Homo sapiens: one gene and its partner. The protein of the gene in region 1 purifies or fractionates together with the protein of each later gene. This does not show direct contact. Each region holds a gene or a part of one and is shown on either strand. Other genes may lie near its edges.

Region 1 (3,500 bases):
ACTACTTGCAAAAAAAAAAAACAGTTACAAGAGATACAGAAAGATATTATTTGCAATAACCACAAAAAGATGAAATAACTTTAATAAGTTATTATTAACAATACCTTTAATAAGAAATGTGCTGGATTTACATGAAGAAAACTTTAAACTCTAATGGACATTGAAAAAAAGACCACTTGAGTAAAAGAAAAGTCATACCTTATTCTTGGACTGAAATAATCAAGATGCCATTCTCCCTAAATTAATTTATAATTCAATGCCATACCAATCACAATACCAATGGGATTTTTAGTTTATTTGGGAATATAAACACCCCAGAATAACTACTGGTAGTAATATTCTGCAAAAGAAAAGGAACAATGGTAGCTAGTCCTAACAGATAATAAATGTCTGATAAAGCTGCTGTCATTATATGTACTATTGCAAAAATAAATTCAAATACAATTCTGAATGCCACACAAGAGTGTGATATGATAAAGAGGGCATTTAAAATGAGCTGAAAGTGGATTATTCAATAAATGATATTAGAAAAAATGGTAGTCATTTGAAAGAAAAGTTCTTTTAAAAAAGTTTTAGATTGGATCAAGGGCTTAATAAAAAAGGAAATCACAAAACTAGTAGGCAACAGGGATGAAATGTTCTAAATCTCAGGGTTAGGAAAGCTCTTTTCAACCATGATACTTAGCCAGAAGCCAGCAAGGAAAAGACAAATTGGGCCATATAAAAATTACAAACTTCTACATGGAAAAATACTACCCACTAGAAAGAGATGAGAGAAAGGATATAACAAAAGATTTTATTTTAATACATAAAAAACTAAATCAATGAGGAAAAAATTTGTCAACTATGCAACAAGCGGTTAGCACTGCTAGTTGTAGTTTTAGTTTTTACCTTCCTATAATGTTTGAATGTATTACTTTTGTAAAAATGAGTTTAAAAATGCAATGCTAGTTATAATAATTATTTCATCAAATTACGTGTATCACCATTTTTTAAATCTGTCTAATTTGAAGAAAAAACACTAGAGTATTTACCATTTCAGAATTAGAAGCATTATGAAGTTTCATAGCTTTCTCTTGAACATTTCCAATGACGGCATCTGCACATAGTGCCAGGGAAATAAGCACCACACCTTCAAGAAGGTATTAAAAAAACAAACAAAAAAACCCTCCTTATTTAAACATATGAACTATAATCAAGCTTTATCAGAAATTTCATTGGTCTAAAAAACAAAAGCAGATCTTCAACTACATTTGTTCGGTAATCCAGAATATTCTTATTCACAATCGGTTGTAACAAGTACATATGTGATGATATTAAAAAAGATATACTAATAAACTGAGTTAGTTCTGTACATATCACATTTCACATTTCAATAGCGTATTAAATAACAGTTCCATAAATATTCTACTAGTCTAATAGTTCCACTAGTTCTGAAAGTGTAGAAGAAACTCTTAGGATATCTATCTATTGGGATTGGTGGCTATTCAGTTAATTAAAAAAAAAAAAAACAGATGAAGAGAAAAGTCATTTTTGAAAAACCCTATTATTACTAAAATGTTTAATTTAAATCACATAAACAGGCACGCTGCTGTCAGGGCCTTTTTCTTTGAGCATGGGTCCTGAATAGAATTCCATATTTTCTCCTTTGTATAAACACACTCAGCACACATTTTCCATGATTTCCAAGGTGTTTTTGTTTAAAAGTGCCCTGCAGAGTACAGAATCCTTTCATATGTTTATGAGCTTCCCTCCAATATTCACAGTGGTTTTACCCACACCTCATTCAATAGTGATTTTATTGCTTGTCAATCAAGTTGTGTCAGTTAACTCAGTTTTCACAAAAACAATTATTTGTTCATATTCATTTTTGAATAACGTAATACTGAGTTACGACATAATTATAATAAAGGTACAACTGACATAAACAAATCTGAGTCAACACTTCATTCCTGAGAAGCATCAAAATGCATGCACACTAAAAAACAAACAAATTGTTTTATCTACAGAGCTGTGATATTTTCACTACATCTTATATGGAAAGTCCAAAAGCTTTATGTTAGATATGAAAATTGCAGCTGTCACACTATCATTTAAAATGCTTACAAAATATTCGAAATTCGTATTCTAAACTAAAAAGCCTATAAAAGCTAGGAATATAAATAAATTACTTACCCGTCAGGTTGAAATTTGGTGCAGTTGTGCTGTCAGCGAGGGTAAACCATATCAGGCCAAGGCTCATACATATGGCAGCAGACACATCTGCAACATTATAACGCTTTCCTGTATAAAACAAACGTAAGTCCACTTCATTATGCAAATACCCACCCAGCTTTATATTTGCTCTATGTGTTAAGTAGAACATGGATTTGTTTTTTTATATCCAATGCCAAAAACGTGAACACTTAGGTCAAGGCAGAAGACAGTCACAAGAGGGCTTCTGAAAACTACCAATGGGCAGCAATATGTCCCTGTAAGTTAGAAACGAGAGCTACTTTATCTGGTATAATAGTGACACTAAAATACATACTTTGGCAAAAACTGACAGCAAGAATAATGCACATCCACAAACATTTAAAAAATTTCCTGGAAATTTAGTTCCTGTTTTACTTTGTGCATAATAAAAGGTTATGAATTTTCTCGTAGTTTGTAAATTTACGAAGTAACCAGATTAATGAGTCTGGTTACATAACTGTTTAAGTTTGCAAATATCATAATGTGATAACTTCCAGGCAGGTGAAAATTAAATTATTTTCATATATCATTATTTTAAAAATAAAATGTAGTATGACTTTTTTGTAAGGTTTATAACGACAATATTATATATGCCTAGTCAGTTGGGACAATAAATGTGATTTTTAATAGGGATTGAGGTCAATTATTTTTTCCTATATGAAGTTATCCTGAAATGATACGTGAAGTAGTTGACAACACTTTCATTTTTAAAGGCTTATTCTGGGATGGTATCTAATGCATAAATGATATCAGGCTGTATAAGAACTTCAGTGATACAGAAACACCCGACTATTAAAACACGAATATTCCTCGTGACAATTAATGTGAACAACAGAAGCTACTTCCACTGTTTGTTGCTATCACTGCCTCCTCTTTTACTCGTATTTCCACAAAACTTGTCACTTAGCTGGGGCTCTAAACATCACTAAAGCCAGCAGGTTGGTAAAAACGCAGTTCTGCTCAGATTAAACTTTACTTCAATATGAGAACTGCCCATGCACAATGGAAGTGAAGGGTAGACCCCTGGAGAGTAGAAGAATGAAGGAACTGAAAAAAGGGACCTTTCCACGTACTTTTGAACTAGACCTTTAATACGTAAATATAGTATTGCTGGAAATGTGGTAGATTCCAAAATAAAATAATAAAAACAAAGTATTATCTTTTCTTTTTCTTAAGTCCAAATTACTGACTTCAGAAACTAAGGCATATAAGTGTTTGTTTGTTTGTTTGTTTGTTTGTTTTGAGATGGAGTCTCGCTCTGTCGC
Region 2 (3,500 bases), on another chromosome or scaffold:
CACATAAAATGCTGTCAAGTCAGGTCTCTCAAATCCTACCTGACCTTTTAAGTCTAGGACTCTACATATCTCTGTTAAATTCCATCTGATCATTTTCCAGTCAACCAAAATGAATTATTTTCAATTCTCATTTTGTTATCTACTGTTAATCATCTCCCTCAAACTTGTATCATGCCTAAATTTGATTAGTAAACCTCTACAACTTTGTTCAAGTTATTATTGATGAAAATGTCAAACACGTCAGGTCAAAGAGCCCAGAACTCTGTGTTCAAGGGGTTAATCAACATTTTTAATCAGTTTCAAACCCACTTCATTGCACTATCATTATCCATTCTGCATGTCACCAACATCTCTCATAAGCTGATGAGATGTTGTCAAAGGTCTTGGTGATCTCTTGCCAACAGGATTGGTTTGGTGTCCTAGACCACAGCTGTCTTTTCAACGTTCACAAACCATCTATTTGATAATAATCTGTTTAAGCTTTTGCCAGATGTGAAACTTCAATTCTGCCACTTGGTTCTCAGAATTCACACTTTCCTTTTCCTTAGGAACATTTTCAAGCTAAGTGTTCCTCCCTGTGCTTTCTCAAGCCTCCATCAGGTTGTGCAGGGAGAGGGGCTGGAGGACTCAGGCTGGATATGTGTCATGTGGAAGGAAAACTCTCTCTGATCAAGGTGGTCTTTCCAATCTTGGGTGGAAATAACCTGTATGATGTTCCCTCCAGTTAAGGACCATTGTCATTGGTGGAGATAACTCAGGCCAAACGGGAGCTGGCCTGCCTTCCTTCCACCTACTATCCACCACCATGATGCCATGGCCCCCAAACAACTTGGCCACTCTTAATGACGTTTATTTAAACGGCTTGGAAAAGCTACCTTTACTACTACCTGTAGTACTTCAAGTGCAGCTGAGGACTGGCTGCTTCTTTGCACCCAGCCAGCACAAACGAATCCATTTGCTGTCCACACTCAGCAATTTGGAGATCTGGCAAATGACGATTCATAATCTGGAGTGATGAAGTGTGACTTTAGGCCACAGCTCCACCTGGCACTTGAGCTCTCCCTCCACTGATGATACATTTGGTTTGGAATCCACAGGATGCTGATAATGGGCTGGCTACACACAGGTCACCAACACAGGGCAGCAGCATGGACTGCATGCAGGCCCTGCCCTGGAGAGGGAAGAACCCCTTAGGTCTGGGATGGCTGGGCTGGGTTGTAAGTCACGTAGGTGACATCCTAGAGTAAGAACGAAAGCTTTCTATGTACACGAGACTTCCTTCTGAGTTCATTCTCTCAGACATGAACGACATGTGCCGCGGTGCTGGTTTTGACAACTAAGACTGGCTTTTCACAGGTCTTGGCAGAAGAGAGCGTCTGCTGTCACAGCTTGCAGCGGGCTCGCTCTTCATCCTCTGCGGGGCAGATCATGCCCCTTTAGCCAAAGCTGGCTTCAGAGCTTTAAGTGATTTTTATGGGTGAGAAGACAAGTGTGACAGGAGAACTTTCACTGCCCACTGACCTGTTATTTTCACCAGATTAAAAACTATTGCTAAGTAGCAATAATGTTAGCACAGTTCTTTAAAAAGAATAAACAATTACACTAAGAAAGGGCACCTGAAGGTTTCCCATAGTGTCCAAAACTAAACATCCATGGCAAACTGAAACTGCATGCTTGGGCTTGGGTATGCGATGACAACCAGCCAGCAAGGACGAGAAGGGTCAGGGGATAGGTGTTCCGATGGGTGCTTACCCAATACTCCCCAGTGGAGGGGTGCAGTGCAGTGCTCACAGCCGTGCAAGTTAGCCAAGTGGCCCCTGCTGTCCTTTCTTTATGTAGTTTCAGAGGTTCACCATATAGACAGTAAGAACTGGAGCAAAAACTAGCAGCACAGAGAACAGTTGTCTGTAGGGCTCTTTGGTGGACACTAACAATTACTGCTGTGGCTCTCACTATTCCTCTGCTCAGAGAAGCCCAGCACGCCCAGTCCCCACACATCTCATTACGGTCTCTCCTGGGAAAGCTTACTCGGCATGTGAAGCATCAACTCCTGTGCTCAAATTACAGAAAGACGAAATTGAGGCCTGCGCAGACGTGCAGTCAGGTAAGCAAAACACACGTTAAGCATTCCTAATCTGAAAATTCAAAATCGAAAATGCTCCAGAATTTGAAACTTTTTGAGTACCAACATGGCAGTACAAATGGCAAGTTCCACACCTGACCTCATGTGATGGGCTGCAGTCAAAATGCAGGCCACAACATGTAGTTTATTCAGTGTCTCCAAGGGAAAAGAGACCCTCTCACCCTCCTTCAGCTGTGACATGCCTTTTCTGCACATGCCCCGACTCCCCCACGCAAGCACATGCCAGTGGGCAGGTTCCCCACAATGACCTGCATGGGGCCAAAACCCACGTGCGTCACTCACTGTGCTTTTTTGCTTACTTTCTGCTCTGTGTTATAAAAATGTTGTTAAAATATCTAAAAGGTGTGCAGATACCCTCTGGGTAACAGTGATAAGAAAAAGATTTATGTTTATCTATAGCACAGAAAGTCAAGCTGTTGGAGAAAGTGGAGAGCAGTGTAAGTGTGAAACGTCTTACAGGAGAGTATGGTGTTGGAGTGACCACCATATAGGATCTGAAGAAACAGAAGGATAAACTGTTGAAGTTCTGTGCTAAAAGTGATAAACAGAAATTAATGAAAAATAGAGAAACACTGCATAAAGCTAAAAATGAAGATCCTGATCATGTACCGAGGATGGATCCCTTGGTGTTGCAGTGAACACCTGCCACTTAATGCTATGTGGGTCAGGAAACAAGCAAGGATCTATCAGGATGAGGAACTGAAAATGAAAAGGAACTATGAATATTCAACATGTTGGCTGCAGAAATTTAAGAAAAAACATGAAACCAAATTTTTTAATGTGGTGACAAAGCATCATGAAGCAGCAAAGAAATTCATTGGTGAGTTTGCCAAGGTCATTGCTGACAAAAATCTGATGCCAGAACAAGTCTATAATGCTGATGGAACATCACTGTTTTGGTTTTATTGCTCCAGAAAGACACAACTACAGCTAATGAGACAGCCCCTCCAGGAACTGAGGACATCAAGGGCAGAACAACTTTGCTGGGATGTGCTAATGCAGCAGGCATGCATAAGCGTAAACTTGCATGACAGGCAAAAGTTTGTGTCCTTGCTGTTTTCAAGCAGCGAATTTCTTACCAGACCATTATTATGCTAACAAAAAGGCATGTTTAACTAGGGATATCTTTTCTGATTGGTCTCACAAACATTTTGGACCTGTGGCTTGTGCTCACTGCAGGGAAGCTGGGCTGGATGATGACTGAAATATTTTGTTATACCTTGACAACTTTTCTGTTCATCCTCCAGCTGACATCTCATCAAAAATCATGTTTATGCCATGTACTTTTCCCCAAATGTGACTCCATTAATTCAGCCATGTGGCCAAGGTATTCTTAGATCAATGAAGGATAAATATA

The links. Proteins that work in one complex are often made in the same cells at the same time.
Region 2: the proteins of SLC35B3 (region 1) and UBAC2 purify together in Homo sapiens (affinity purification with mass spectrometry; one large-scale study listed by BioGRID and IntAct). This does not show direct contact.

Annotation. Positions count from the first base shown.
Region 1 is NC_000006.12:8,418,546-8,422,045, forward strand, and holds part of SLC35B3 (adenosine 3'-phospho 5'-phosphosulfate transporter 2), read right to left. Parts: intron 2,284-3,500; coding exon 2,176-2,283; intron 1,133-2,175; coding exon 1,035-1,132; intron 341-1,034; exon of another isoform or gene 199-340; intron 1-198. UniProt on the Homo sapiens protein: Probably functions as a 3'-phosphoadenylyl sulfate:adenosine 3',5'-bisphosphate antiporter at the Golgi membranes.
Region 2 is NC_000013.11:99,378,854-99,382,353, reverse strand, and holds part of UBAC2 (ubiquitin-associated domain-containing protein 2 isoform 1 precursor), read right to left. Parts: intron 1-3,500. UniProt on the Homo sapiens protein: Restricts trafficking of FAF2 from the endoplasmic reticulum to lipid droplets.